Regions from separate parts of the Homo sapiens genome. Here regions 2, 3 and 4 are each linked to region 1. The links come from fine-mapping of genetic effects on gene expression. A gene starts in region 1. Each other region holds a variant in brackets. All regions are shown on one strand. Distances are from middle to middle.

Region 1 (8,105 bases):
ATCTTGCCAGAGTGTAGTGAAGTTCAAGTGTGTCTGTGACTGACGTTCTGAAATATCAGAGTAGCAGGCAGATCTGAGGCATCACTCAGATGACCTGGGTCCTTCTCTACTCACATGCCCTGCCCAAGGGATTCTTTGCGGCCAGAGAGAGGAAAGGAAGATTCAGCGGAAAGAGGAGCCTGGGGCAGAACTAGGAGGGAGCGGAAGGAGCCTGTACTTCTGTCATTAACAAGTCTTAAACCTCAGAACCTCAGTTTCCTAATCTGTGAAAAGAAGGTCTTAAATCTATCTTGCAGCATGAATGAGGACTGCGAAGCAGCAGCCAGCATCCTGCTTGACACATCGCAGCTGATCCATATAATCGGGGCTATTGGAAAAACAAAACCCCAGCTACAATACTAGCTGCGGAGGAAGGGAGCAGTCTTGAGGTTGTGAAAGACTTGTGTGGAAGGAGCGCTCGATGTGGGCCTCATCCCCAGCATCCACCAGGGCAGCTTTACTTTAAGATCTATCATCTTGCTCAAGGTATTGGGATTTTAGGAGGGTGATAATGTTTCCTCTAAAAGGGTTTTCCTACTTAAAAGAAAAAGAAAAACACACAAGTTTCAAAACCACCGAAGTGAGTGATCTCCGAGGTCGCTCCAGCTCGAATATTCTCTGCACTTAAAACACGAAAATGAAAAACTCCCATTTGCAGAGCGGTTATGGGGTGGAAGAGGGGTGGAGTTTATGGCTAGGGGCGGGGCCACGCTGGAGGGGCATGGGCGAGGCAGCCTGCAAGGGATTAGGGCCCTTAACTCCCCCAGTTGGGGCTGGAGAAGAAACCCTGCCGCGCCAGAGGCCCCGCCCAGTGGGAAGGGGGCGTGTGAAGGGAGGATAAATATATAAAGTCGTCACACCCGCTCGCGCGCGCACAGCCCCCGCAGTCTCGGCGTTGCGGTTGCGGCGGCCTAGCGGAGACAGCCCCTCCATCCCATCCACCTGCTGACACGCGGCTGCGGAGACAGAGAACCCGAGAACCCGAGAACCCGCAGGGCCGCCCACCTCCGCCCGCGCAATCCCGGAGACCCCCGGCTGGGGCCGTGGGCTACCCCTAACTGGGGCTGCCCCCACCCTGCTCTCAGCGGAACGTTTCCCAGGGCTGAACAGCGGCTAAGGACCACTCCTCCATCCCCAGCCCGGCGCCACTGCACAGGCTCCAGTGCAGGACTTCCCAGAAGTGCCCAGGCACGGTTCACGGGGGCTGGAGGAGTTGAAAACGCCCCAGGACACGCCCAGGAGTCCCGAGAAATGTGGGTTTCTCCTTTGGAGGGTCTGATTCTGGGAAGTGGGGAGCCAGGGCAAGGACTTCCGGCCCAGCCAGTGCGAGGGGCAGCGGCCTCCTTCCTCCTGCCAGACCCGACTCTCTAGCGTCGGGCACCCTTGCTCTGCCACCCAAAGGGGCAGAACCGGCGAGGGCGTTCTGGCCGTGCCCCTCCCCGAGCAGTGACCGCCAGTACGTTCGTGAAGGCCGGCGCGGGTTGCTCCTCTCTGCGCCCTCGGAGGCAGGTGGCCCTGCAAAGCCGCTGCCAGGTGCACCTCTCTCGGCCACCTCCAGGAAGGGCGCCCTCCTCCGGCACAGCCCGCCTCTTGCGTCTCTCACGGACTCTTCTCGCACCCCGCCCCCCATTCTGGGCACAGACTTGGAAGGAGGAAGGAGGGACCCCACCCTCGTGTGCTCTCCTCTGCGGAGAAGAGAGGGCTCCCGGCTGCCTCGGATCTCCCTCTGCGCCCCAGACGCGGAAAGTTTCCCATTCGCGATCCGCGTCTGCGCTCTTCCTTCATCCTGAGCAGCGGAGCTCCGAGGCCGCGCTGGCTGCACCGGCCCAGATGCGCTCACCCTCAGGCACGCCAACCCCCGCCTCCCGCAGCCCGCAGAGGCGGGCAAAGGGATTTGAGGCGTCAGGATGCCGGGTCAGCTCTCTGCAGCCGGGCAGCCAGAAGAACCCTGCTCCCGGGTTCCAGGGAGAGCTCGCAGGGTGGGGTCCTGACGGAGCCAGGGTTTCCCAACAAGCCCTTCTCATCAGTCCTCTCCTTCACCCTGCCGCGTCTCTCTGTTCTGCGCATTCCCAGGGAAAGGGGTGCTTACCTTAGGTCCCCAGCCTCCAACCCCCGCCCCCTGCAATGTCCAGGTGAGGGCTCCAGTGCCTTTCAACAAACCCCAGTGCCCTCTCGGCGGCGCTGGAACGAGGACCTCCCCCATGTAACCTTTCCCTCTAGAGCCCTCCTCCCAAAGTTGAGGGGGGACATTTTGATCCACTTAGGAAAGTCTCTTGTTCCAAGGGTAGGGGAACAAAGTACAGGGTTTGCATTCCTTCTGGGTTACACCAACCCCTCCCCCCTCGCTGTCAGGACCACCTTCCGGGCTCAAATTCTGCAGCTTCTCCCATCAGCAGACCCAGCACTCCCCAAGGACTTCGGGGTAGAAGGAGTTGGGGTTATTTTTAAGGGGGCACCCCTTCCTGGCAGGCACTCTCAGAGCCTAGGTAGGCACCTCCTGCTGGGACAAGGCTATGGCATAGGACAGAGGTGATGCCCACCTCTATCATCCAGTGGGGCTCGGGGTCGAGACCTTATTGATCATAAAGACGACTTTTTGGCACCTCGCGTCCCGCTCCCCTCCGAGGCGGAGCCAGGCTCTGACTCCAGCCAGGCTGAGGTTGGCACCAGGCTCCGAGGAGGATCCCGGACGCGGAGCCTGTAGTCTCGGTGCCTGCGGCTCTTCGCTGGTCCCGCCTCCCTCCCTCCTGGCTTTTAGCCTCACGTTGGCTCTCTGCTCACTGCGCGAAAGGGTTCAGCTCCATTTAAGACCCACTACGCGGCGGCACTGGGTGGGAGGCCGGCCGCGGACCCTGGGGCTGCGGAGCCACCTCTCACTGGCTCCGGAGAACCCGCTCGGCTTCAACCTCCTTCTAGCTGTCTTAGCCTAACCCGGGAGCAAGTCCACACGGCGGGACACACACACACACACACACACACACACACTGAGCTGCTCACAACTCCCCAGCCCCGGAAGCGTCCATACCTCCCTGCACACGATAACCACACGCTCCATGGCACGCATACACACACTCCCAGCCCCATGAAGCCCACGACTCCCAGGCACCTGCACCCCCACCCATCCCACATAAGCAGACTCTTGTCCAGTGTCACAGTCCCATCTCCTGTGCACACAGAAATAGTAATCCGCTGTCGTACACCCCTAGAGACCTGCACACTCGGGACACACGTGAAACGCCAAACCTCACATACCCACCCCCTAACACCTCACACCCACAGTGACACAAGCTCACACACTTCACACCCTCACAGGGAAGGTGGCACATGTTCACACCCTCCCCCCAACATTCGCTCACACTCTCACACACACACCTTCTCCATGTAACTGACACAGACACTCTAACACCCATCCAGACCCTCGCTCACTCACACGCAGACCCCACACCATCACACACACACGCACACACACACTTGCATCTCTAAATACACTCCCGCACCTTCTGCCCACACAGCTCCTTCCCGGACACCCTCACCCAGACACACAACAAAGACACACAATTTACACACACACACACACCCTGGCACAAATCCATGAGCGCTCTCCAAGAGGCGTCCTCCCTCCCTCATCGAGCCAACCAGCTCCACAGACCCCGGGCAGGACCGGTGCTCGTAGCCCGAGCCTCTCGGAGCGACCCCGGCCAGCGCCCTCCCCCGGCACCCCGTCCCCGCGCACGTTCACCGCTCGGCTCCCGCCAGGCGCCCGCGCACTCACCGCGCGCCAGGTCCAGGATCGCGGCGAGCAGCAGGCAGACGCAGCGGCGGAGGCTCGGGGCGGTTCGCATGGTGCCCGGGAGCTGGCGGCGGTGGCGGGGCGGCGGGGGTGGAGGCGGTGGCGGCGGGTCCCCTCGCCATGGGCTCAGACGCGCTCCTGCCTCCGGCCACTGGCCGAGGCGGTGGCGGGCAGCGCGGAGAGCCGCGGGGGCGCCCCCATGCCGCCGCGGCCAGGCAGCCCGGGCGCCCGGCTCGACTCGGCTCCGGCTCTGCGAGGCGCAGCGACCCTCGCGCTCTGGGCGTCCTCGGGGCTCGCCGCGGTTCTCGGCTCCCTAGCTGCGCGCGGTGCCCACCGCGGCCCAGAGTCCGATCGGCTGCAGCGCCGGAGTTTGGAGCCGAATCGCGCTCTCTGCCTCGCGCTCGCCTCTCCCGGCGGCGCGAGCACCCCCCTCCTCTCGCCCTCCCTCCGTCCCTCCCCCTCTCCCCGCCCCCCCGCCCTCCTTGCCCTCCCCTCGCCGCGCTCTCCGCGTATTATACAGACTTTTCTTTAATCCTTTCTGGGCTGTTCGGCTCTCGTCCGCTAAGCCGATTTATTGCAGGGAGAAGGAGAGCTCACCCCCTCCTAACCTCCCCTCTCCCCTCACTCAGGTCCCCCCTCACTCAAAACTGGCTTGCTGCCTCCAGCTTCTTAACCCTTACCCAGGTGACCCAACACCCCGCCCTGGAAGCTATGCTCCATCGGATCCGCCTTTACCTAGCCCCTCCTATCCCCGGGATTACCATCGCCCTCCCCGCTACTCAGCCTGATGAAAGGAGGCAGCCTCCCTCCCGAGAGGGAAAGATGCCATCCTGGGAGCAGGGCAGGCAGGGTGTGGCTCTGGAGTTCTGACCTTGCCAACGATGAATGCCCTCATTGGGCAAGATTAAGGGGTTTCCATGTTCTGAAACTTCCCCAATTACGGCTGCTCCTTCCCCCAGGGACCCACGGAAATGGGGTGTGTTCTGTCTTTTTCCCATGTGCTAGGATCCAGCCAGGAAGGGTGAGGAACTGATTGTTTCCTCCTGGCAGAGACCAAGTTTCCACCTTTTTGCCAGACCTGACAGCTTTTCTTCCCAGGTCCGAGAAGAACAGGTTTGGGACTTGTATGTTACCATTACTCTCCCACCAACACACACGCGAGCACACACACACACACACACACACACACACACACACCATTGAGCCTCAGCCCTGGCGGTGGACTTTGAGGCCTCCTGCGAGGATGAAGGGGAGGGGTACTCTAGCCCTTGGAGTGGACTGGGGATGTGGTTAGATGAGGAAGTTCAGGAGATAGAATTTCACCATTGGTAGGGACCCAGAAGATTGGCAAAGCCCAGAAAAACCAGCACGACCAGGGGCAAAACCTGCTCAGAACTCAGGTGGGTCCCTTTACCCAGGCCTTCTATGGAGAATCTCCAGCTTCCCTAGCTCTGGCAGGTTGCTGAGTCAGGCTGTTGCATCGTTTACCTACATGGGCAATGGGTCTATAGCCAGTTCCATCTCCAGCAGCCCTCTGAGAGGAGTGTAGGGAGTGGGGTGGGCAATGGGTGGTTGCTGGGCTGCCTCTGGGTGAGCTTTGTGCAGAGATGTCCATGAAAGTGAACTGCTCCCTCCTCCTGCCCTCTGGAACCTCACCCCATCGCCTCCCAAGGCAGCTCTGCGGCTCAGCTTGCTCACCCACCCCAGAAGGAGCGATTTGCATTTATGAAGATCTGAAAGCATACGTTCACCTGACAGGCTTTAGAATGATCCTCTCAGTAAAATAATAATAATGATCATAATAAACCCTTATAAATAGGTGTTTGATTACAGTTTGTCCCTAAGTGGGATTTTTTTTTTTTTTTTTTTTTTTTTTTTTTGTGAATCAGACTAATTGGTTCCAGGTTGATTGGACTGCATATGGCTTGAACACTTGATGAACACTGGAGTCTTAGGTCCTTTCTTCTCCCTTTGGCTGCTGTTCTTTGCTCCCTCTCACTCGCATCCACCCAGGTCTCCCCTTCTCCAGGCTGCTGAGGGTCAGCTTGAGGTCACCTCTCCCCCTCACCTTCTTCTCAGGCTGCAGGGCACAGTCCCTTACTGCCTCCTCCCTGGCCCTCCCTCCCCACTCTGACCCAAGAAAAAGTCAACAAACCCAAAAGTCCATCCCAGGTTCTAAATCCTCTGTGGAAGGGGCTCCCTGGCTGGGGAACAGCATCAGGTTCATGCGGTTCCTTGTGCTGGTCTGAGTTGTGCAGGGAAATGCCAAGCATCGCTGTGTGGGCATTCCTACTCTCTGGCCCCAGCTGCAAATCGGCGTGCAGCTAGGCAGGTGGACAGCATCAGTTCCTCAGGTGAACCCTGAATTGGTGGGGCTTCCTGGCTGCGCTCCCTGCAGCCCAGCCCTTGGAGATGAGGGCCAGGGAGCAGGTGGGATTCCAGGGCCCCTTAGTGATGTTTCTTCCCAGCCATGGTTCACACCAGCTAGAAAAGAGAGCCAGCAGAAGGAGCTAGAGAATGGCATCTGAGGATATGCTAGTGAGGAGGAAAGCAGGCCTAACAGCCAAGGGAGGGTTGCTTCCTAGGACCAAGGATTGGGGCTGGTGTGTTGGAGATCTCCTTCAGCCCCAAGACTTCTGAATCACCTCAATTCTCTTTAACATCACCCTGTATTATAATTATTATTATGCCTAGCCAGTGCCTGACACATAGTGGATCCTCAATAAATACCAGTTGGATGAATGCGTGAATGAATGAATGAATGAATGAATGAATGAGGGTAGGTCATTCAGTCTTATCCACTCTGTTCCTCAGCTCCTTGCACAAGTCTGGCACTTGGTAGGCGTCCTGTGGCAGTGAACCTCCTTGGAGCGCCAGGATCACATATTCTGACTGGGCCCATCAGAGAGGAGGTGTCTGCTCAGGTGCGCAGTTTGGTTTTGCCCAAAGGGGCCTGGCTGTGATGTGCATGTCTATGGCCATATGGTAACCATAGTGGTTAATACGGCTGCCTTCACAGGCCCCTCCAGGGAAGCCCACTCCTCCAGCTCCTGTTTCATAAGATATAGCTTTAAAGCCTTTCCTTTGTCCCAGAGAAAGACATCTCTGGAGCACTGAGAAGCACAGTTAGCAGAGGGCACAGGGTGGGGTGCCTTAGCCAAAGGAAAAGGTCACGCGGGACAGCCCTGGGGCTTTTAATTTGCTTAACATCCCTTGGCTCCTGTCTCCTAATGGATCGGCAGGGCCTCCACTTTGCAGTCCTGGCACTCAGACCCATGAGTCACGGCAGGACAGGCCTCTTCCTCGGACACTGGCTGAGCTGGAGTCCTTGGCGGAGGTGTGGCTGTTTGCCCCCAGCCTCCCTCTGTTCATGGTGCTGAGTTAGGCTCTCCCAACAGAGTGCACTACAGCACAAAGCAAACTTCTACTCCGCGGACCCCAGGGAATAGCCCCAGAGGTCAAAGGGCCCCTCTGTGACCTCTAGTCCCCACCCTCCCTGCCAGGAAAGGGGAGGGACGCAGCACATGACTGCCTACCCCAACCTGGCTCCCAAGGGAATGGGCTCTGCTGGTTTGCAGCAGGACACCCAGTGAGGTTCAATAATAAGAGTCTGAAGCACTTATGAAAGTGCCTCTTTGTGCCGGGTGCTGTGAAAGTATTTAATGTATATAAATTCATTGACACCACACAATAATGTATGAGGTGGGTCCCATCATTAGTCCTGTCTTACAGTTGGGAAAGCTGAGGCACAGAGAAGTTAAGCAACTTTCTCAGTACAATACAGCTATGAATAGGACCAGATTCCAACCTAGGAAGAGCTCAAGAACCAGAGTTCCCAAACACCTTACCTAGACACAGTACACCACACATACACACAGGCACACACATACAAGTGTACACACACACACACAAGTGTACACAGACACACACAAGTGTACACACATACAGCCACACACATAAGTGTCCACACACCAACACAGGCACAAGCAGAAGTGTACACACACAAACACAGGCACACACAAGCATACACACATACACACAGGCACACACACATGCCCACAAATGCCCACACACAGGCACACACACACAAATGTCCACACACACAGGCACACACATGTGTACACACACACATGTCCACATGCACATACAGGAACACACACACAAATGCCCACACACACACACACAGGGGCGCACACACACACACCCAGGCACACACACACAGACACGTGTCCTCACACACAGGCACGCACACACACGTGTCCACACACACATACAG
Region 2 (8,105 bases), 120 kb before region 1:
CTATTCTCATAGTTTTGGCATCTTATTCTACAAACGGGCTGAGCTCCTCCCCACTTGGCCAGACCATGGGGGTAAAGTGTCCAAGAGTCAGGCTCTTGCCGCTTCCTCCCAATTTCCTTCCCCTCCCTTGAGGGGTCCACAAGCAAGACCTTCCCAAATATCCAGCCAGAGGTTTTGTTAGCTCCAAGGTTAGGTGATCCCTATGGCTTCAGATAATTTCATCAGCTGCCCTGATTTACCCAAAGAATCCAATGCATTCATGATGTTTTCTGACAGCTCAGGATGATCCCTTTGCTAAGATAATGTATTTAGGACCAGAGGGGAGGCTGCTGGGCTTGACACATGTTTTGGGCCATTTTGTGCCCACTGTGCTGAGCAGGCAGTGGCGGCCTCATCACAATGCCCTGCTTCTTCCTTCTAACGGGGTTGGAGCCACAGTCCTGACTGGGCCTGTGTAATCTATTCATTTCCTTCCAAGCCGGGCTCTGTAAGCTCATTCACGGAGGATGGAGAAAGGAAGCTGGGACGGGAAGCAAACACACGTACAGAAAACAAACAGCACTCGGCAGCTCCCTGCTTGGAGGAGGGGGGCAGGCTGCGGGGAGAGGGAGATGGGGAAGGAAGCCACAGTGGGGGGTTCGTCTGGCAGGGGAGGAAGGGGTCAGAGGAGGGTCTGGCTGGAGAAGGAGACTGGAGCTCCTGTTGCTGCTGCTCCCATTCCCTCTGGAAGCCCTGCCCTGACCTTGACTCCTGGAGCCCCCATCTTGGTAGGCTCTTATCTCTCTCCCTTCAGCTGCCTCTTTGGGAAGAGAGACAATCACTAGAGAAAGCTAGAGTGGCAGAAAGCAAAAACTGGCCACACGGAGCCCTTCCCTGGAATTTCCTTCCTTCCTCTGCCCCCATCCTTCCCATCATAGGCGGGCACGTGGGCTCCCTGAGACCTGAGGACAGTAACCAGTCAGCTGAGCCACCACCTCCGTCCAGCTACAGAATTACAAGGGCCCAGGCATTTGGCTCTAGTGGGTGATTTGCATGTGATTTGCATACATCTGCATATGCCTGCTCCAGAGGCCCTCAGTCAAAGGATGTGAAATGAAATAAAATAAATTAATTAGTGCAGCCTACCATGGCCCGATATGCAGCGCCTGACAATGGTAAGAGATGCCACTGATTCTTAAAACTACCAGTGGCATCAAGGTTAGGCAGCAAGAGTGGGGGAGAGAGGAGGGTCTCCCTACCGGAGGATGGCGAAGAAAAAGGAGAGTCTCTGTCCAGCCCAGGACATGGATCCTCCTGCCCCAGTCCTGCTCACCATCTTCAAGAACATCAAGTCAAGCCATGTGGAAACCTGCTCCTGGCTTCTACACCTGGGCACAGCCTGGCACTAGCATTGCCCATAACTCCAGCAGGAGCCTCTGCAGGGAGATTTTCACCACTGTGACTATGGTAACATTCGATTTCAAACCGGAGGGAGGACAGTTGCTTCAAGAGCTTGGAAGGCAATGAGGTGCCCACTGCTATTTTCCCATCTCCAAACTTCCTTCCATTTCGCTCCATTAACTGTTCCCACTGGGTCTCCATATTTCTATCTGTCTTTCACCACCCCTCCCTCTGATCCCATCTATGGGATGGCTGAGGGAGAGATGTGGTCCCATCATCAGCAGTGAGCTGGAGTTAATTTATCCCTGTCCTTCTGCCAGGTGCTAATGAGATGCTCCCAGCCTGTGTCAGCCAAGCAGTTCCCATATCCTGTAAATACACCTCTTAGTGATTCAGTTCATGGCACTATTTAACATATGCCTTGACTTTCTCTAGGCCCACTGATCTATCCAGGATGGCACCCTTCCTTAAGGCTGGGACCCTCTAGGGTGCTGGATGTCAGGTTCACACCTGTGAAGCCCAGGCTACCTGAAGAGCTTGGGTGGAGGGCACTAGAATTAACTCTAAACAGGAGAGACTGCAATGCTGAAATAGAGAACTATGATTTTTGGTTAGAAGGAGTGCAGATCACAGCCAACAAAATAGCAACAACAAGCAAACCATGAATCAGAGACCGAAAATGCAAAGCAGAGCAGCCAAGACAGGCTGGTTCAAAGCTCACCTGGACCAAGAGCAAGAAGGAGACTGAAGAGAGCTGTTCTGAGTCAAGACTATGAACAGCACGCATGCCCCAGGGATTCCTCTAACACTGAGTTTCCATGCTCTGTGTGTAGATGTGGTGACAGCTCCAAGGAGCAGAGGAGCCAGCTCTAGATCTTGAATCACAGTTTGGTGCCCACCCCCCACCTTCCTTGCCCTCTCTTCCATGCTCCATCACTTCCTCCAGAACAGCTCCACCTAACTGTGCTATCCATCCGTTTCATTTGAAGAAAGGGCAACAAAGATTAGGAAAGCGTGGTTTCTGATCAGGGATTTGCAAACTATAGCCCATGAACCAAGTCATTCTATAGCCTGTTCTGTACAGCCAGCGAGCTAAGAACAGTTTTTACCTTTTTTAATCATTGAAAAAAAATAAAAAGAAGAAGAAATTATGACACATGAACCTTGTACAAAATTCAGACTTTGGTGCCCATGAGTAAAGTTTCATTGACACACAGCCATGCCCTTTCATTTACACACTGTCTGTGGCTGTTTTGATGCCATACCAGCAGAGTTGAGTAACTGTGACCAAGACTGAATGTTTGGCAGACAGGAGAATATTTACAATCTCAGTCGTCACCAAAAAATGTTGCCAACCCCTGTTTAGATGACAGAAGAGGAGTTCTCCCCCAGGATGGTGGTGCCTTTATCTGTGCACACTCAAGCATGCATTGGAAGAAAAGCATCACTGCCCCCTGGACCTTCTGAGCCCAGCCCCAATTCCTTTGTGGCAAAGGGATAGAAGACTGGGATGCCCCATCCAGACACAAGAAGATTTCACTCAGTGGTTGAAAAGGCCCCTTGTGCTCAAGATTCCAAGCTGTTCTTCCTGGTGCCAACACCTGGGCCCTGGGCAGGTGGGTACCTTCTCATCTCTAACCAATTCCCTTCTCAGATGGTGCCAGACACCAGGATTAGTCCTATACGTAGTCAGATTAGGTGGCAGACTATCTCTGTGATTTGATTTTGCAAAAGGCAGGAAGCCTTCCTGTTTTTCTCTCTCCCTTGCCAAAAACATTATCCGAAGCCTCATGCTCAAAATTCCACCATCAGATATCACTTGTGATTACACTGTGCCCAGGGTCCAGGGTGTTCTCAGTAACTTCTACTTTGCCTAATGGAGTTTTCCAAGCGTAGGGGCATAATAGGAGCACAAAGAAGGTGGAAACCAGATCAGTCCTGAGGGTAGAAGGGATGGCTAGTACCCAAGGAGGGTGTCAGCAGAGGGCGGGGACCCAGCAGATGCCCAGGACAACTCAGGACTGGGTCAGGGCTGAGGTCATAGCCACACCAGTGAGGGTGTCCAGAGGGCTCTGAGGACCTCACACCAGTCCTGGCCATGGGCATGAAGGGGGCAGTAGTAGTGACTTACCCGGTACCACACGATCTCCCGCATGCGCCCATCTGTCTTGAAGTTACACTTCAAAGTCACGGCGTCTCCAGCCACCACAGGGGGGAGAGGCTCAATGTTGACTGTCAGGTAGCCTACAGAAGAGAGGAGAAAGGGGTGGTAAGGGCACGAGCAGATCAGAGGGGCTGGGCTGATGAGGGCAGGGCCAGGGAGACAGCAGACAGAGGAGGGAAGTTTGGGGTCTGTAGTTGCACAACTTTGAGGGACGCTGTTCACACTGTGGTTTCTGTGAATGGTGACTGCAGGCCCAAATGGAGCCAATCACCCTCTTCTTCCCTCTCTTCAACATCTCCTTTTTGGCTGCCTCCCTGGCTCCAATGGATCCCTCCAAACCAAAAACACTTCTGCTTGGGACACATTTTTCCCTGAAGGTAGGACCTGCTGGCACCTCCAAGAACAGCCTCAATGTATTTCTATAAGATACCCCAGAGAAGGCTTCTGTGCCCCAACATCGCCCCTCCACCCCTTTTTAGAGTTGTGGCATTCATGATTCATCTATTCGGTCCTGCAGGAAATGAATGCCGAAATGTATTTACTTGGCATTTCCAAACCTATTTGAATATGGGTCGCTCAGCCACCCCTTAAGCCCCACCACCATCCTACGCAGCCAGGATCTGAGAAATACACACTGGGACATGGTGTTCTAAGTGCCCATACTCCTCCATTTCCAACCTCATAAACAAATGACTCCTGGTAAAAAGAGAGCCCTGGGAAACCACCATTGGCTTCCTTAACACCCTCCATTGGCTTTCCCACCACACATACTTTGCCACCTAAAGGGAGGGTCGGGTCCAAGCCTTGGCCATGGCAGTGGTGATATGTTAGAGAAGTCCATTATAGACCCACTATCTGGGGAGGAGTCTGAACTCATTGCAAACACCAGGTGATGCTTCCCGGACTACTACCAGCTGCCCCTGGGAGTGCCTGGAGCAGACGCTGGGACTCTTGCCCTGGTAGCCACACCTTGGGGACACTGCTCTCTCCACACCAAAGTCTAGTCTGGTGAGGCCTCTAACCCACTCCTCTGCCTCCACTAGCCCCATCCCAGAGGCCTGGACCTTCACCGCAGTTCCGAGGGGAACCTCATTCCTGGGCTGATCATCCAGGCTCATCTGATCGGCTTCCTGCCGGCTGATGTCCAGTCATTGATCTAATGGATCAATCCAGTCCGATAGTCTTAATGAGAAAACTAGCCAGGATGGGTTCGAAGATTTCAATTGTGCAGGCAAGCTGAATAGATGGAGCCCATGGGCCTGACCCCTGCCTGGAACTCAATGGTTACAACACTCCAGGAAAACAAAAAACAAAACAAAACAAGAATCGACCTGGAGAGGATCAATTTGGAAGTTGGAGTCAGAGCGGACCTGCACGGTCCAAGGCTTCAGGACCCAGCCTCCAGGGTGAGGGGCAAGGCAAGG[A/G]GCTCACTCCAGGGAGGCCTGTAACTTAGGCCAGAGGTCAAGCCCCTGGATAGCCCTGGAGCCCACTTGGTCTGACAAAGCCACAACCACAACCAACCGGTCCAACTTCCAAGATCAGAAGGACCAACCCGGATCCTCCTTTCCTCATTTACTCAACCCCAGTTCACTCCCACCTACCCTGTGCGGGCCTGGGGCCAGGATCTGGGAAGCAGAGACCCAGGCATTGCTCGGCCCTCCAGGAACAAGCAGTGAGGGTGAGACAGAGATGCCCAACACAGTCACCACTCAGGTGACCAGCCAGCCTCTAGGTAGGCGGACGGGGGCCTGTGGGTGGGCACAGAGGGAATCTGATCCAGCCTGGATGATCCCAGCCATGGGGCATGACAAACAAGGAGGCCACCTTCAGGAGGACAGACCCCACGGAAAGGGAGACCTCCGGGCAAGCCAAGCCTGAGTGTAACATTGTGATACTGGCTCACATGTGCACACCTGCTTTGTGCCAGGCACTGGGCTAAGCACTTGATATGATATGCATCTACTCACTTAATCACCAGGACACTCCTAGGAGAGAGGAACTATTATGATTCCCACTTTCTGTGAGTGAACCAAGAGGTGAAGTCCCCTGCCAGATCACACAGCTGCAAGTTACAGAGCTGGAATTCAAACCCAAACCTTCGGGCTCCATGACAACCACCACGCTATTACAGCCTCTCGGAAGAGGTGAGAGAAAGTGGCAAACACTGTACATCTGCAGCCTGCATACTTTTTTCTTCCAGCCCTAAAGATGGAGGATGGGCATTGTGGCAGGAACTGTGATAGGAGTTGAGGACCTGACCCCATGGCCACAATTCTGAGCCACGTGGCTCAATCTTCCAGTGAGGCTGCCCTCCCCTGGGCTCTCTCTCACCTTTGCAGATATAGTTATGAGTTGAGCCTCATCAGTCCAGATGGCTGATGAGATCAAGGCTCATGAAGGTCCTCCTCCCACTGGAAAGAGGAGGGAAGGACATATTCTCAGATGCATAAATCTTTGAGCAGCCCGAGGTGGGTGCAGATGGTGTGTGCCTGTGAGGCAGGCAGGGCAGGATGGAGGGTCACCATTTGTTGGCAAGCCATGAGGGAATTGCAAGTGTAAGTGTGGCGGTGGCGGGGAGGGCAAGTAGGGGAGTGGTTGCAGCTCTGGTGATTGGGTGGTAGTGTTAGGAGCACTGGCAGGCGCAGCAGATGTCTGGGGCAGTAGAATTCACAGAGGCATGCCAGGGTGAGATCAGAGAGCCCACTGCATACGCACTCAGTCTTAGAGGTGAATCAGGAAGTGTGTGCAGGAGTGGGGTGGCTCTGACAGGTTAAGACAAGACAGCTTTTCCCAGAGTGTGCAGAGAATAGGGATCTTCTCACCAGTGTTTCAGGAAACATGATTTCTTTGTGTGTGTGTGTGTGTGTGTGTGTGTGTGTGTGTGTGTGTGTGAGAGAGAGAGAGAGAGAGAGAGATACAGAGTCTCACTCTGTCATCCAGGCTGGAGTGCAGTGGTGTGATCTTGGCTCACTGCAGCCTCCACCTACCGGGTTCAGGCAATTCTCCTGCCTCAGCCTCCTGAGTAGCTGGGATTACAGGTGCTTGCCACCATACCCAGCTAATTTTTGTATTTTTAGTAGAGATGGGGTTTCACCATGTCGGCCAGGGTGATCTCAAACTCCTGACCTCAAGTGATCCACCCGCCTGGGCCTCCCAAAGTGCTAGAATTACAGGCATGAGCCACCATGTCTGGCAGGAAAACATGATTTCCAACATCCATGAATTTTAAGAGATATTGGGTTAAGTATAATTAAACCCGTTCTTCCCTTCAGGACTTCTCTTAACTTTCTCTCCTTCCTTCTTCCTGTCTTTCCTTTATGCATGAAAAACAAATTAATTGAGAATCTATTCCGTACCAGGCACCGTTGTAGGCAATGGGGACATATCAGTAACAATAGACACGTCCCTGTCCTCATGGAGCTGCCAGTTTAGCAGAAGAGCCCATAATCAAATAAATGATGGAAAATATGTCCAGTGGTGATAAACATAATGAGGAAAAGCAAAGCAGAGTGAAGTGATAGAAGGCAATGGGGGAGGGGCTTCTTTAGCCAGAGGGGCCCTGGGAGGCCCTTCTGAGGAGGCTGGAATAAAGGAAGGTGTGAGCCATAGGGGTATTGAGGAGAGAGCATTCCAGGCAGAAGACATGTCAAGCGCAAAGGCCCTGAAGCTGGAGTGTGTGCTCACAGTGCCTTGTGACCCTCCAAGTTTGGGCCAGAGTGGGAAATTTTTCTTCATATTTTACACTCTGGAGCCCATCTTTTTCAGAGCATCTTGTAGAACCTGAGCCAGGAATGGGAGCGAATACAGTGAGACAAGCAAGGGGCCTGCAGTGCAAAATTAAAGGACACCGTCTCATTGCACCATCCTGAGAGTGAGTGGGTGCCTCTTTGAATGTTACCCCCTGTGCACCTGGCTAGCTTCACCCTAGTCTCAGCCCTGCTGGAGTCCTTGAAAACAAATGTCGGGAAACACCACTGTAAACCGAGGCAGGAGTGACTGTGTCTTCCATTCCAGGGATGGCCCTACTTGGAGTCATGGTAGCAGCCAGGAGGAGAAATGCTCGTAGCTGGGCACTCCCCTTCTCATCCCCGCAGGAAGCTGAGGGAGTGGGGTTTCCAGGCTGCAGAGACAGGTTTAGCTCTAAGGACTAAAACTCCTTGCCTGAGCATGTGTCACTTAGTTTTCCCAGCACTCTCACTCCCATTTTTTCAGCAGCTCAGGCAGCAACCAGTGCCTTGTACGATGCCACGACCATGAGTATGTCACACTGGAGTGCAATTGTCTGTTTGCACATCTGCCTCTCCTTCTGGAATATGAATTCCATTAATATCAGTAGAGTATTAAAATATGAATACAATAAGCGATGCATTCTGAGCGTTCATGGGCACAGGCAGTTTGGGTCCTCGTACCCTCCTGTAAATATGCCTCTGTCACAGACAGGAACGAGCTACTGTTCAGAGCTATGGAGCACCTCATTCCATGCCTCATGGACAGAGCAGCCAAGCTGGGATCTGAACCCAGAGCTATCTGGCTCCAAAGCCAACTTCTTTCTACCACTTCT
Region 3 (8,105 bases), 42 kb before region 1:
ACCACCACAGATGATCACTTCACTCTCCTGACCCTCAGTTGCCTCATTTGCGAAGTAGAGATCATCACACCAAGTCCATAGGATGGTGAGGATGAAAGGAGAAAATTCACCTTCGGCACCTGGTTCCCAGTCAGTCATCCACCCCGTGGCTGCTGCTGTTTTATGAGCAGTGACTGTGCCTTGTTCTTCCTGCCTGTTATTGAGCCAAGTCACTGGGTTTGGCTGCGCTTAGGGTCCAGCCCTAGGCCTGGGGCCTTTTGAGTTCCCTGGGGCTACATTGCAGATGTCTGAGCAGCTCTGAGCCCCGCTCCATCCATCTGGCTGGGGCCTCCTCTGCGGAGTGAAGACAAGACTGTTGGCATTGGCCTTCTGAAGCCCATTAGGGCCGTGTGTGGATGCTAATGGGATGGACATCTCCAAGAGGACAAAACCATCTATAACTGTTCCATGGTTGACAGTGAAGCTGAAGCAACGCCCGGGAATGCCTCCATCACTCTCTTGGCCTCCCTACCACCCACTGCCTGTTCTAAGCCAGCAGAGCGGCTGGGAGCAAACCTTCTCCTTTCAGGACCCTGTGGTGGCTGCTGCTGGGCAGAATCTGAGTGCCCTTGGGGGCTCGAACACTGAGCCCCCAAACCTGGGGCTGTCACCATTGTTGGCCGGCACACTGCAAGCAATCAACATCAACCCTCGTGCTTTTCCATCATAGCTATGGGCAGAAGCTGTAGGAGGCTTGTTAACTGCATTATCTCTTCTATCCTCACCTGTACCCTATAAGATAGCCTTGGATATTCCTATTCCAAGGAAACAGAGGTTCAGAGAGGCTAAGCTGTTCAGACTTACACAGCTACTAACTGGCAGAGCTAAGGCCAGATCATGGAACCCTACGTGAAGAAGCGGCATCTTGTTATTTAGGGCTCTGGGCACTAGGAACTGGGGAGCTGTCCTTAGTTGGCTTTATAACAATGCATGATGAGAAGGGCAAAACTTCATGGTCCCTCCATGGCCAGAGACCAAGCTCCATAGTGATGGAGCTTCAAGTCTAAAATCTAAATAAGAGAAATCATGATTATGATAATCAACACCAGTTACTAGGTCCCAACCACCCTGCAAAGGTTCGGATGCCTGGTCTCACTTTGCAGATGAGCGAGCTAAGGTTCAGAGAGGTCAAGTGACTCACCTAGGCTTACACAGCACCCAAAAGGCCAAACCAAATTGTGAGCTCAAGACTGTTTGGAACTGAGTCTATGGTCTGTGTTTTCTAAAGATCTGTGGCTCAAATATCACCTTCTCAAGGGATCTGCTCTGACCTCACACCTGTAGCTAACATAGAATCCTGGGACAGGTGTCTCCAGGGCAGGGCACGATGACTGCATGCAGTGGAACGCAGTTAAAACCTTGAAGCCACCTCCAGACTCAGGCATGACCTTCTGGAGTCCTTGGACATCACCCTTTCTCATTTGACATCTGCTTAGCTCCAGGAGGGCAGGAGCACTGTGGATGAATGTGCAGTCGGTCCTCAAAAGGAATCTGTGAGACAGTTGAGTTAATTCATTCGTTCATCTACCAGGCATATAATGGGCACCTCTAATGTGCCAGGCCCAGTTCTAGGCACTGAGGATATAGCAACAGAGGGAGAAAGGTCCCTGTCCTCACGGAGTCCACTCCTAGGCAGTGATTAAGTGTGAAAAAGAACAATAAAGCAGGCTGAGAGGATGCAGAGTGATGAGTAGGGTGACCACGTGCCCCAAATCCCTGGAGCAACCTGCTTGAAACCCAGTGTTCAGAGGATAATCATTAGTGACCCCTTTCACCTTAAAATGGTCCCATTTGGAAGATGAATTATACGGTCACCCACATGATGAGAAGCACTACTAGGATCTCTTTAATTACTAGGTTGTGGGGCAGAAACTGTCAGTTTTCACCAATATCCATGAGCTTCTCCGTATTTCCAAGACCCGCCCCCCACAGCCCCCTGCAGTTAAGGAGGATGTGTGAGTCAGTTGTGGTCCATGGAAGCAGGGAATAAGTGTCGCCCAGGCCTGGCCCCAGACATCCTGTGAAATCCTCTACCATGGTGTGAATTATTCACTCCTCTCCCCCGCCTGTTATATGTGGCATGCACTGTCCCTCCCCATCAGTGTTGGATTTGGCCATGTGACCTGCTCTGGCCACTAGAATGTGGATGTCGATGGTATATGCCACTCTGGACCTGGCCCTTGAAACTCTAGGTCAGAGCCTCCATGTGATCTTTCTCTTCACTCTTCAGCAGACTGAATACAGAGGATCCAGCGGGGAACCTCCCAGGGATGACAGAGGCACAAAATGAAAGAGGCTGGGCCCCCAGAACCATTGCCTGGATGTGAGTGCTCAGGGGAGCCTCTGACCAGGAATAAATGCATTTGATTTTGCATGAACAAAAAATACACTTTTACTGTGCTGTGTCAAGAAGAGGTTGGAATTGTTTGTTACAGCAGCTAGTGTTAATTACCCTGACTGTGACAAGTGGCTCATGAAGGACTCTCTGACAAGGGAAGATTTGAACAGAGACCTAAATGAAGTGATGAAAGGTCCCTCCACACAGAGGATACAGCCTGGGTAGAGGCCCTGGGACGCTCAGGTATTCTGTGATTCATCAGGGCTGAGCCACAGCCATCCGGAGACCTTGCTCAGGTCACATACCCTGCCTGAGCCTTTGTTTTCTCTGGTGCCAACTGGGACAGGCACCACCCCTGCTTTTTTTCCCGATGGCACTAAGCTGGGAGGCTGATGTGGTAATGGACATGACAGGGATTTGGGGCTAGGGCCGCCCCATCAGCTCAGGGGCCACTCTTGCCCCACCAGCAGAATGATCCAGAGTGTAATGGCATTTGTGATCCCACTCAGAGAGACCTTGGTGAGGGGGGCAACTGCCCCAGTGAAAGTGCTGGAGTCCCTGATGGGGTATCTTGATGGCATTGGTGACGGAGGACACTGCACTGACTTCAGGGCTCTCAGCTCCCTGGGAGGTGCTGAGATGGATTGAGTCCCCTCTGGAATTCAAGGAGGAGAAAGGGGTCAAATGTATGTGGACTTCCTGGCCCTGAAGTAGGTATGAAGTTACCGGTCTCGCCTAGCCCCTTAAGCCCATCTCCAAGGAGGCCAGCATTCCTGTCTCTGACCACACTGACTCAAACACCTACAGCTAACACAGAATCGGGGACAGGTATCTCCAGGGCAGGGCACAGTGACTGCACACGGCAGGAACTCAGTTAAAACCTATAAACTACCTTAAGTATCCTGAGACCCCCCCCGCCATGCCAAGCACCATCCTCCTTGTTACAAGTGAACTGTCTCCAATCCTCCCAGCCTCCGTAAGGAAGGTGCTATCCCCATTTTCCAGAGAGGCCCAGGCCTTAGAGCACGTGGCAGCAGAGGATTCCACCCCAGCTCAACCTGGTTCCAAAACCTAAATTCTCTTTCACTCTGTCACCCAGACTGGAGTGCAGTGGCATGATCATAGCTCACTGCAGCCTTGAGCTCCTGGGCTGAAGCAATCCTCCCACCTCAGCCTTCTGAGTAGCTGGGATTACAGGCATATGAGCCACTGCACCCGGCTAATTTTTTGTTTTGCAGAGACAGAGCCTCCCTCTGTTACCCAGGATGGCCTCAAACTCCTAGGCTCAAGCAATCCTCCTGCCTCGGCCTCCCAAAGTGCTGGGATTATAGGCATAAGCCACCACTCCCCGGCCCCAAAGCCTACATTCTTGCTACTGAATAAATGAAAATGTAATTATTATAATAATAATTAGCGTATGGTGAAACTTGCGCTTGGCATTCTGCTCAGAGTTCCACATCATCCCAGAGGCTCCCCAGATCTACCTTTTATAGTAGACATGAATGATTCTCATTTTACAGATGCAGAAACAATGGGGGAGGGGAAATGACTCCCCAAGGTCACAAAGCCGAAAAATTATGGAGCCAGAGTCTAGAGATGGATCAGTGAAGCCAGGCTGATCCTGCCCCGAAGGAAGCCTCAGAAAAACACCCAGGATTTCCACAATCTGCCCATGTTACGAAGACCTATTGGGCCAAGCTGTCAGGCTGGCCTGCCACCGAGAGAGCTCATGCA[C/T]GAGTGGCTCAGCCATTTAGCTGAGCGGTACTGGGGAGGCAGGTCTTGCTGGCCGGGCACCCAGCCAGGACTGAGGAGTCAGGATATATCACCCCTTATTATTAGCAACATTAGCTCTGTGATTCGCCAGCATTCACGGTATTGACACTAATGATTAGCACAGCCATGAGTCTGAGCCTCTGAACCGTGCCGGGATGGCCACCCCCTCCCTCTGTGTGTGTCATCCCCGCTGTGCATGGTTCACTTAAATCAGTCCCTTGCCCCGAAGCCTCGGAGACTGTCCCTGCTCCCATGGTCTCCCCTGCACACCGAGCGCTCCTCTGTCTCTCCACGTGTCATTACCCACCATGGCCACACACACCCTCTGCAGGCTGCTGGCCCATGTCCCAGCATTGGCCAGCAGGGGCTGTGCCAGGCTGGACAGAGGGGCTCAGGCACACATGTCAGTGACACGCCTGTCCCAGCTGTTGTCCAGGCAAGGTGGGCCGCAGGAGTACTACGGAGCATGCAGACCTCTGAACCCTGCTCCATGCACTTAGCCTGGCAGAGTCTCCGGGATGCCGCCAGACACACTCTGGTGAGCACGTCTTGCTGACACCGTAAGAACTCGTGCACACTTAGCTCAAGCACTGGGTTTATGCTCCGGCTTTTTTAATGAGTATAAGACACTAACTTGTGTGTGCAGGGGCAGGAGGGCTACTCTGTACTTGACTACAAACAATCTCACTCATTCAAGGATAACATGTTTATGCTTTGAATTATACAGGCTTGTTTTTTCCACTTCTTATTTTTATTTCCCTGTGTCTTCTGAGCAATGAAATAAGCGATGATATGATATCTCTGAGGGCAGGGTCTATGCTTACTCACCGTGGCACACATCCTCTCACTCCACAAACATCTACTGTGCACCTTCCTGGTGCCAGGCCTTGCACTAGGCACTGGGGATGCAGCAGGAAACAAAAGAGACCTGGCTGCTGCCTTGATGCAATTTACAGCCTAGTGTTGTGGTCCAGAGTCTAGACGCTGAAGCTGGACTGCCTGAGTTCAAATCCCAGCTTTACCACTAGCCAGCTGTGTGGCCTTGGGCAAGTGACTTAGCTTCTCCGGGCTTCAGTGTTGTATTAGTCCGTTTTCATGCTGCTAATAAAGACATACTTGAGGCCGGGCATGGTGGCTCACGCCAGTAATCCCAGCACTTTGGGAGGCCGAGGCGGGCGGATCATGAGGTCAGGAGATCGAGACCATCCTGGCTAACATGGTGAAACCCCATCTCTACTAAAAATACAAAAAAAATTAGCTGGGCATGGTGGTGGGCGCCTGTAGTCCCAGCTACTCTGGAGGCTGAGGCAGGACAACGGCGTGAACCCAGGAGGCGGAGCTTGCAGTGAGATGAGATCGCGCCACTGCACTCCAGCCTGGGCGACAGAGCAAGACTCCATCTCAAAAAAAAAAAAAAAAAAAGGACATACTTGTGACTGAGTAATTTATAAAGGAAAATGGTTTAATGGACTCACAGTTCCACAGGGCTGGGGAGGCCTCACAATCATGGCGAAAGATGAAGGAAGAGCAAAGAGATGTCTTACATGGCGGCAGGCAAGAGAAAACTTCTGCAGGAAAACACCCCCTTATAAAGCCATCAGATCTCATGAGACTTACTCATTATCAAGAGAACAGCACAGGAAAGACCCACCCCCACGATTCAATTACCTCCCACCAAGTCCCTCCCACGACACATGGGAATTATGGGAGCTACAATTAAAGATGAGATTTGGGTGGGGACACAGCCAAACCATATCAAGTGTCCTCAGTAAAAATGGAGATAATAATAGTACCTTTCACAAAGTTGTTGCAAATCTCAGTAAGTTATGTATATGCAAACCTAGAACCATCCTGGTATGTAGGAGGTACACAATGTTTCATCATCATAGTCACAACAAAAATTATATTCTAGTGGGGAAACAGATGATGAGCAAAAAAACCAACAAAATTATTAATGCTAGCAAGCAGTGTCCTGACAGATGGCTCAGATGTATTCATATAAAGGGAAAATAGGGGAAGGAGGTGACATTTCAATGGGGTGGTGTCAGGGAAGGTATTTCTCGGTGCTTTTTATTTAAATTCAGCCCTGCAGGACAGGAAGGTTGTAGTCTTAGGATCATCCCAGCAAGGGTGATCCAAGCGGAGGAAGCTCTGAGTTCAAAGGCCCATAGGCTGGACAAGCACGCTTGGGAGAAAGCAAGCGGGCCAGAGTGGTGGGAGTGGCATGAGCACAGGAGAGAATCAAACAGGGTGAGGTGGGAGAGCAGGCACCACCAGAGGAAGGAGAGTAAGGCATGGGATTTGATGTCAAGCACGATGGCAGACCTTGGAGGGGTTCAAGCCCGGAAGCGACTGGATCTGATTTACATTTTAATAATATCTCTCTGGACACCTGGAGAGCTGGATGATGAGGGTGGCAGCCGCAAGACCAGCAGGGAGGCTATGGCAGGCGTGGACACGTGGTGGCCTGGGCTGGGGTGGCAGTGGCGTCAGAGGGAAGCGTCATCCAGATGCAGGATGTATTGGGGGAAGAGCCTCCAGAACTCGTTCCTGGACCAGGCGTAGAGAGCAAGGGCAGACAAGGAATCAGGGTGACCATGTTTTTACTTTTGGTGTTTGCTACAAGGCATGTGTTTTATTTCTTACCCTACCATTAACCAGCTGTGTGACCTTGAATATGTCACTTAACCCCTCTGAGTCTTACTTTCCTCATCTACATATCAGGGGTGCTATGAGGATCAATTAAGATAGAACATGAAGACAGAGATGGGAGAGCGTCATGAAGAGAGAAATGTGGAAGAAAGGCTGGGGAGAGGGGCACGTCAGAACTGATTCTGGTCTCACCCGGGACCCTCGGTGGCTCCACAACCTTGGCCAGAAACCAATTCCAGTTTGCTCACATATCAAACAAGGCTGAACGCTCAGTTCCTCTCCTACTACCTTGACCAAAAGGAGGCACTTCTCCCCTAAGGGAGTGGAGGTGTGGGCAGCATGTGGTTGGGCTGGTGTGGGGAGAAGCCTGACTCTTCACTGTCCCAATCCCTCCCTGCGTTGGAGCAGTGATCCCAGGAGGGCCCAGGAGAAGGTGCACTGGCTCAGCTCCAGCCTCTCCTGAGAGTGAAATGACTCAGTCAAGGTCGCCCGCTGAGCCAACGACATGGCCCAGAATAGACTCACGTTGCCCCACCTCCATACTGCACCCCACCCATCCCCCTCTTGGTACAAAGCAGAGGAAGGGACCATCCTCAAACTGATGGACGCTCACTCCCTGCTAGGCCCAGTGCTTTGGACTCGGTGTTCTGGCACAAATATAGCAAGAGATCTGTCCTTTGCAGTTTGCAAGAAATTCGGAAACTAATGGAGAGTGGGGAGAAACTGGCATTGATTACATATTCCCTCTCTGCCTGTTTCCTTACAGTATGGCACTTAATCCTCATAATACCCTCCTTTTTCTCTCCTTTAGATGGATATGTAAACAGGATCAGAGAGGGTGAGGTATTTGCCCAAAGGTCACACAGCAGAGCCAGGGTCAGTGCCAAGCCCACTCTTCATTCACTGTCCCAGCAGAAGCCACACTTTTCTCCCCTAAAAGACCAAGCTAGGCTCCTGTCCCTTTCTGCCCAGGAGGGTTTGAGCCAGAGCCTGGAAACACTTCTTGGAAGGAGGAATAAAGGAGCAACCAAAGTTCCTCCTGGTTCTGGGCTCCATCCCCTGGCAGAGCGTCGACCTTGGCAGGGGAGCCCAAGGGCATCATTTGGACTTCCCTAACCTCCACGCTCAGCCGGCAGGTGCCCTGCGCATTCCTTATGAACCTGCCACATTTGCCGCCCTGAGAAGCCGACATGAGGGATGGCATTTTATTAGTCCCTCCCCACCCTTCTGTTTGGACTTCAAAACATCTACATAAATTACAGTCCTCGTATTTATTGCATCTGTGTTGTTGTGGCAAGAGGAT
Region 4 (8,105 bases), 71 kb before region 1:
GGACATTCTTCAGCCAGCCAGCAGGTTCAGACATGCAGGGCAAGGTAAGATCGTGCCTCCGCCAGGGGAATTACCTGGCTGCCTGTCTCAGGGGCTTCTGAGGCTGCTTTTAGAACAGCACATAGGGTTCAGGTCACTCTATTAGAAAAAGGATATTACAGAGGCGAGGGCAGCCAGGCCCAGGAGGGGGCAGGGTGGCTTCCTGTAATGCCTGGGCAGCCAGTTTGCAGCGGGTGAAGGAGGGTGATGTCGCGTCTGCTGGATAAGGAGAGTGATGATGCTGTGTCACCAGGCCTCGTGTGATTCATCAGGGGAACGAGAGATGAGGGCAGCGGGGCCTGGAGCATGGGTCAAGTGGACAGACACAGACATGGAATCTACAGGCAATTTCACCAGGTGGAGAGGCTTCGGACCCCATTAGGCACCTTGGCTCTGTTCCCACCCCTATACGGATGACCCCCCTCGAGGGGTGGGAAGTGCTCAGAGGGCAGCATGCTAGAGCAATGAAAGGACAGAACTCAGGAAAGAGTTTCATGTTTCATTCATTCATTCATCCATGCATGCATTCATTCATTCAACAGTGGTGACAGAGACAGTCTCTGCTCTCACAATGAGTCACTTAATGACAGCTCTGGTCACTGCCAGGAGGGAAAAGAACCAGTGCTGGGACAGCTGCTAAGAGTTGTGACATATGCCACAGGTTCAGGAAAAGAAGAAACAAGTTACCCTCAAAAGACACTTTCTGGGGGTCGGGTGCAGTGGCTAATGCCTGTAATCCTAGCACTTTGGGAGGCCGAGGTGAGCGGATCACCTGAGGTTAGGAGTTCAAGACCAGTCTGACCAACATGGCAAAACCCTGTCTCTACTAAAAATACAAAAAAATTAGCCGGATGTGGTGGCATGCACCTGTAATCCCAGCTACTGGGGAGGCTGAGGTGGAAGCATCACTTGAACCTAGGAAGTGGAGGTTGTAGTGAGCCGAGATCACGCCACTGCACTCCAGCCTGTGCAACAGAGTGAGACCTTGTCTAAAAAAAAAAAAAAAAAAAAAAGACACCTTTCAGAAGTGGTGGCAAGACTTTCCACTTTGTGGTGGAAGGAAAGGAAGGAAAGCTTGGTCTGCTGGACACTCAGGACTTGTCCCGATAAATAAAGGTTTCAGATCCCATTTAAAGGCTAACAAATGGGGGTGCCTGGCATAGGGCAGTCACCCAGAGTTCTGAATCTGAGTACAGCTCTGGAAATTCCTAGCTGGACAACTCTGGGCAAGTTGCTTAATTTCTCTGAACTGCTTTCCTCATTTTATAGCAGAGCTCATCAGACACAAAATGAACACAGCCCGCCGTCCCTCTCAGTGTCTTATCTAGTGATGGCAGTGGTGTCAAGATGGGAACGTGTGCTTACTGAAGGCCCTCACACTGACCCAAATGCTGCCTGGGCCAAGGGACCCTGGCTTTGGGTGGCCCAAAGATGCTGCCAAGCCAGATGTGCTTCTGGGAGCTGGGAGAAGAGTCACTATATTCAGAAGGCCTCCCCTGTTCCCATCTTCTGCAAATCCTTGGAGGACAAATTCAAAAAAGACAGAGCTGACATTCTGCCTAGCCAAGATAGGATGGGTGTCTTTCCAGGGCATGGCTAGGCAGAGTGGGCATCCATGTCAGGAGCAGGAAGGGGAAGGAGGAGCTGGGACCTGACCACAGGTCACTGGCTGGTGCCCTGCTCCCTGCCAGAAGCATGTATTATCTCATTTAATCCCCAGCACAATCTAAAGGTCCTTATTATTATCATCACACACAGCGTTTGGGCTGCTCAAGCTGGAAAATTCTGGGCCAAAACAGCGTTTGGGTCAGTGTGCATGGTCCTGTAATTAAACGCACCCTGTCACATCAATGTCGCAGCCATAATTAGACAAGAAGCCGAGCAGGGCAGTGGCTTATGTCTATTTGGAGTTCGGCAGAGCTATGTGCTCACAGCTACGTGTAGGATGGGGCTTCGGAGATATGAGGCAGGTGTTAAATGATGCCAGAACACATCCGCCGCACGACCGAGGATCCACCACCACCTGCAGGCATCAGGCCCTGAGCCGGGGACTAGGAGGAGGGGAGGCAGCAAGGAGGAGGGCTCATTCCCTTCCCTGGTGGGAAGCCTGGATGCAGAAGAAGGGAGCACTCAGCCCTGCCCGATGCAGGGATCACAGACTGTGGCCCAGTTCCCTCCTTTACAGAGGGGGAGACTGAGGCCCAGGGGAAAACAGATCTGCTTAGGTTCTGCAGGGCAGGCACTTAAACCAGTGTCCCCAACTCCAATGTCTTTCTTCTTGATTTCAAATCCCTGATCCGCCTCTTACCACAATACCATGTGATATCAAACGAGTTATCTAACTTCATGTTGCCTCAGTTTCTGCATCTGTGAAGTGGGGATAATACTGCAGAACTCATCAAGGTTGTATAAGCCTTAAATGAGTTAATATATGTAAAATGCATAGAACAGTGCCAGGTGCATATTAAATTCTGTATAAGTAAGTATGAGCTATAGTGTGACATCCACAGTTTCCAACAAAGAGCCTAGAAGGCTCTGGTGCAGACAGAAACTGAAATGCTGAACCTGGAGTAGGAAGGGAAATCATCAGCCCCCTTATTCCCTCATCCTTCCATAACTGCGCCTTCCAAACCACTTTTTTGCTCAAACCTTGGACCTGTCTACACTTTGTTTTATCCAGGGAAGCTATTGATCTACCTTAACTGTATGACTGTGGGGCATGCTTGTTTGTATGTCCAGGCCTCAGTCTCTGCAATGGTGGAAGAAGGCCAATACCTCCTCACTGAAGGCTGAGGGCTCAGCAACCCAAAGCGCTAGGCACAAAGATGGTTGTAACTGCCATGTATGTGCCAGACATGTTTCATTCATTCATTCATTCAGGGTTTTTTGAGCACCCTGCATGGCAGGCACTATTCTAGATGCTAAGTGCACAAAGAAGAATGAAACAAAGTCCCTACAACCTGGTAAACATCTACACCTCGCCACATGCAGCGTATATTCTATTATACCCTATGTTTCCATGTGTCACGCAGTGGAATATAAGGAAGCAGGAAGTGCTATGGAGAAAATTAAGGAGGGGAAAAGAACAGTGGATAAAGGGAGTAGAGGGGCTATTTCGATCCAAAAGCCAGGAAGAACCTCACTAGGATGGTGACCCAAGAAGAAGGGAGAGCGAGTCACTCAAATACCAGGAAAGAGGATGCCAGGCCAGGAGAGCTAAGGCGAAGGCCCTGAGCCTGGAATGTGCTTGGCAGTTTCTTTTCCTTTTGCTTGGAGGCTTTTGAAGAATGCCAAGGGGGTCAGGACAGTCAAAGCAGAGTGTGCTATTCATTCATACTCATTATTATTACTTTTGTTATTCATAGAAATTGATGATTCTTACTTAATTTCAATCTGTGATCTGGACCTAAAGGATGGGATCTGAGTTTCCAGATCCTCACATCCCTTGGGTGGCTCTGCCATCCCCTGGAGACCCTCACCCCCAAGCCGACCCCTCCTCACCAGTTCCTGCTTCCCTGGCTCAAGCATCCGTCACCCCGACCCCAGCCAGAGAGTTGCCGCCTCCATCAGGCCCAGTAGGGACCGTGCCCAGGGCCCAAAATATGTTTTCATTTTGATTCCTTTTAAAATCAGGGAAAAAAATGAATAAAATAATAATGAATATAGAATTACAAATCCAGCCTGGATTACATCTTTGGAATACATCTTTATTCCAATGTGGTCATAAAATAAACATTTTACCATTTTTACATGGAGGCAGGGGCCCACGGAGGTAACAGTGCTGGACCCATGAAAGTCACAATGGGGCCAGGCTGGGCTGGGACAGTGGCCCCTCTCTGAGGGATGGGGGTGGGAGTCTGCTCCATGCTTTGGGCAGCTCTCAGGTGGAGTCTCTCTCCCTCTAAGACCGCAGCCTGGGAAGGTTGGAGCTCAAACGAGCACCTGTTGAGTTGCCGTGAGCTGCTTGGATGTTGCCTCTGCCACCTGCCAGCCTCCCTGATGGACAGAGTCCCCTCTCGGCTTGGACAGGAACGAGGTGACCAATGGTCGGTGGCTCCGTAGTCCCACCCCACAGCTGGCTTCTCTGAGCCCTGCACAGTGGCATCTCCAGGACACCTGCTGCCTCCATCTATTGGTGAGTCCCCCACCCTTCCTCTTAAATCTAGGGAAGTGGTGATTTAATATTAATATTTATTCATGAACTCAATTCTTTCCCTGTTAAATAATTTCTCAGCTGTCGGAGGCTTCTGAAGGCTAATTTAAAACAGGTGTCACGGTTATCTAACTTATGCCCTTAGATTCTCAAAGAGAGGAAGGGCGGAGAATAAGCATCCCTGCGCTCGCTCCCCGAACTGCTGCCTGCCTGGGGGTCTGGAAAACAGGCACAGACCCGTCCTCTGGGAGGCCAGACCCTGGGGTGGGGTAGGGGGAAGGGGAAGGGGGGATGACATCACTTGCTGGCCGGAGAAGCCGACCCCAGGGCTTAACTCTTAAAAGGAAGGAGAAGCTGGCAGGAAGGGGCACTGGGAGAAAGAGGGAGGGACAAGATTTTTAACTGAACAATCTATGCTCGTAGAATAATAACAATAGAATAATAGCTAACACTTATACAGGATTTAATATGCACCTGGCACTGTTCTATGCATTTTATGTACATTAACTCATTTAAGGCTTATACAACCCTAATAGTTCTGCAGTATTATCCCCACTTCACAGATGCAGAAACTGAG[G/C]CAACATGAAGTTAGATAACTCGTTCAATATCACATGGTTATTATGGTAAGAGGTGGATCAGGGATTTCAACTCAGGAAGAAAGACATTCGGCTGAAACCCGAGTCTCCCTTTCGGTGGCCAAGGGACCTCTTTATGGTTTCACTTCCTCTTCTGTAAATGGAGAACATACAGCTTAATTGTAAAGAATAATTAAGGGGATAACGAGAATATCTGATTGGGCAAGACCTGGCTGTATGCATTTTGGGGCTGGCCTGCGGCAGGTCAACAGGACACGATGGAGGGAATGACGCTGTTGTCACAGTGTCTGACACTCCCTTTCTCTCTTTTCCAGCCTGCTCCCTCTTTCTCTCTCTCTCTCCCCACTTCCCCGCCTTCCTTTCTTCTTTTTCCTGACAACCTCACACTTCAAGGTTATATCTGTTACAGCTGATTGAAATCTATGTGATGGCTTAAGCACTGGCCAATGAGAGCTAGAAAAAAAGTAAGAAACTCGCCCCATCGTGCCCACCTTTGCATCCCACCCCTGCCCCTTCAGATAAACTCACCAATCTCAGCGCCTCTTCATCCACCCCCTAGGAGATCCAAATTCATCATCTTCTCCACTCACTGAGAAGCTTGTTTGCCATAGGATATATTTTGAAGACAACGGGCATACCGAATATGACTTTTTAACATATATGTGCCACCTCCTCGATCCAATCACCCAAACACACCCACTCCCCCTTCCACAGGGTCGTTGCTCTAAATGGGGAATTCCTTGTTCAAGTGGAGAGAGGGGATGAGACATTTGATCATTCCCCAGGCACTATGCAAACCCATGCAAATTAAGGAAATGCACACCACATCAGTAAGTGTGTTTGTGAATAAGAAATAAGAGATGAAGAGACAGGACAAGGCAATAATCAACTGCAGAAAAAAAAATCATCAGAGAGAACCTGAGACTGGATAATGGCCTGTGTTTATGTTTTATGTGCACATGAATATAGATAGGTTTATGCATATGTACCAAGAACCATGTACACACACACACACACACACACACACACACACACACACACACACCTCACTGACCCCATCCCCACACACGACCACAGTCCTTCTCAGCCATCTCTGGGTACATGCTCAGGGCTCTGCATGGACTTTTCGGGGCAAAGGAAAAACCTTGGACCCTGGACCACCTGCCCTGTTGTCTGAGTCCTTCAGAAAGTGCCCATTATTGGATTATTACTGACTCTGGATTCTCTAGGCCACCAGAGTCTATGCAATCTTTAGCTTATGGAAGGATCTGTCTGTAAAGTTCACTTCTAAGTCAGCTTCTTGGATCAAGCAATATATCTTCCCAGATAAACAGTGTCAGTGGATACAATAAAGTCATGGTTAAAAGCACAGACTGGGAGGATGGCAAACTTTAGCCTGGAATTAAACCACTCTGTGTCCTCATCTGTTAAAGGGGGAAATAAAAATACTCACCAACCTCAAATACATCCAGAAAAATTATAGGAAGCGCTGTATGTCAAGTGCCCAGCAAATAGGAGCTCAATAAGCAGTGGGCAAGGCTACTAATAGCACTGCTAAAGTCACAGCTGGCCTGTTGTCCTTAAAGCCCCAGGGTAGCCCCCAAAGCCCCCTAATCCCCAAGGGAGCTGACAACGTTTTATTTACATTTGTGGTTACCAATGACTTGTAACATTGTTTCCTTGGGGAATTGCTCTGTATTCTAAATTCTCTGTGGAGACCCCGGAACTCCTCCCACCTCACCAAGGAAGAGGAGGAAAGTCTTCCATGGTGGGAAGAAGGTCACAGGGTCAGGGGCGCAGATACTCTTAAATACCAGTTAGTGAAAACGGCACATCAGTGTGAAAAGGCTTACTCCTTGGAAAACTGCTCCCGAGGATTATCTGCTATGTGCCAAGAGATGCCCTACTTATTAGATTGTATCCTTTAATCTCGACAACAGTTCTGGGCTTGACTGACTCCTTTTGCAGATGGGACCCCTAAGGTTCAAGGAGGAAAAGTCTTGCTCTCAAGATCACTTGGCTAGAGCCTGGGGGAGACCAGACTGGAATTCAAGTCTGTTTGGCCCCAGAGCCTGTGATCGTTCCTTAACTTTGCCACAATGCCTTCAGGTGTCTGAAAAATGAAGCCAGGTGTCTCGTCATTTGCAAGTCAGATATCTTTAAGCTAGGATGCCTCTCTGTGTCCCCTCCTGCAGTTATCTGCCTAAAAGCAGCTCAACCATGTGACACTGCCTTGAAAATCCTTCTTGTTTTCACCCTGCAGGCAGAGCCGACAGCCCGCGGAGCAGGAAGCCTGATTCCCAACCAGGCTCATTGCTGTGTGTCTGTAATTAAGGCCCTTGACATCTCTGAACCTCATTCTGCAGTTTCAGACATCCAGGCCAGGCACCGGGCCTTCCCTCCTTCACAAGGCAGAGGGTACAATGAGCTCACATCCAGCGGCATGCCCAGGGACTGGCAGAGAGCCAGCATCCTACAAATCCACAGGTCTGCTGGGCATGATCTACTGCCAGGAGCAGGGAACAGGCACTGCCCTCTCCTCCAAGAGGGCTGGAAGAATTAATATTAGTACAATTATTTTAATCAGTGCGTGATTAACAGGCACATGCATAATTCACCCGGCTCTTCCCTCTGCCTTGCTCTGGGCTTTTGGAGGCGGAGGGAACATGGCTCTGGCTCATTAGCTCTCCCTCCACCCTGTCCTGCCACCCCTGTGCTAGGGGAGGTGACCTCCTGGTGAGAGAGTCCTCGTGGGAAGGAAGGTTCAGAACAGCCTCTGCCCAAGGGACCCCTTATAAGGGACTGGACAGAGGAAGGGAGCCCCCGCTACCCCAGGTTCTTCCCGGGTCACTTCCCACCAGGAGCAAGGGACAAGGAGGTTCCAGACTGACCCCTCCTGCCTTTAACCTTGGATGTCTGCACCCCTCTCCCCGCAGCATCCCTCAAGGAGCTGCCCTTGTTATTCCATGGCATCTTCCTCTGAATCCTTCAAATGGCTCTTTCTCGTTTCCTCCCGGCTGTCTGCGGGTGCTAACTCTGCAGTTCACTCCCCGCTAGATAAGATAGGGAGGCCTAGTATTTGTCCTAAAATCACCTCCTTCAACCTTAGCTTCTACCAAATGTCAGAGCTAGAGGGGCCTGTTTACATCACACAATCCAGTCCCTCCAGATTATAAAGGGGAAATAGAGCCCAGATAGGGGAAGTGACTTGTCCAAGGCCACACAGCACATCTGTGACAGAGGCAGAGACAGAATTCTGAGTTTTGGACGCCCAAGCCCAAGAGTTTTACTCAAACTCCAGATAAGGGTCACACGGG

Alleles and levels. Alleles are on the strand shown, and positions count from the first base shown. SD is a standard deviation of normalised expression in the study named. Not every link is listed here.
With allele G in place of A in region 2, the expression in cerebellum of the gene that starts at base 4,212 in region 1 is higher (moderate effect, 0.60 SD a copy in GTEx).

Evidence for each region.
Region 2: its variant is fine-mapped to the expression of IGSF21 in cerebellum (GTEx, PIP 0.95).
Region 3: its variant is fine-mapped to the expression of IGSF21 in pancreatic islets (PISA, PIP 0.95).
Region 4: its variant is fine-mapped to the expression of IGSF21 in testis (GTEx, PIP above 0.99).

The regions. Positions count from the first base shown.
Region 1 is chr1:18,103,905-18,112,009 of GRCh38, reverse strand. IGSF21 (immunoglobin superfamily member 21) reads right to left here and starts at 4,212. Exons shown (of 10, transcript NM_032880.5): 1 at 3,812-4,212. The coding sequence starts at 3,881.
Region 2 is chr1:18,223,417-18,231,521 of GRCh38, reverse strand. It overlaps IGSF21 (immunoglobin superfamily member 21), which reads right to left. Exons shown (of 10, transcript NM_032880.5): 2 at 3,512-3,624. Among named protein-coding and RNA genes, the nearest start is that of IGSF21-AS1, 51 kb to the right of the region's middle. RefSeq lists an enhancer at 1-525. The variant A/G (reference allele first, on the strand shown) is at 4,969.
Region 3 is chr1:18,145,597-18,153,701 of GRCh38, reverse strand. All of the region lies in intron 1 of IGSF21 (immunoglobin superfamily member 21), which reads right to left. Among named protein-coding and RNA genes, the nearest start is that of IGSF21-AS1, 26 kb to the left of the region's middle. RefSeq lists enhancers at 6,084-6,583, 6,584-7,085. The variant C/T (reference allele first, on the strand shown) is at 4,112.
Region 4 is chr1:18,175,121-18,183,225 of GRCh38, reverse strand. The region is part of intron 1 of IGSF21 (immunoglobin superfamily member 21); the gene reads right to left. IGSF21-AS1 (IGSF21 antisense RNA 1) reads left to right here and starts at 7,190. Exons shown (of 3, transcript XR_001737917.3): 1 at 7,190-7,275. RefSeq lists enhancers at 7,022-7,521, 7,522-8,023. The variant G/C (reference allele first, on the strand shown) is at 4,770.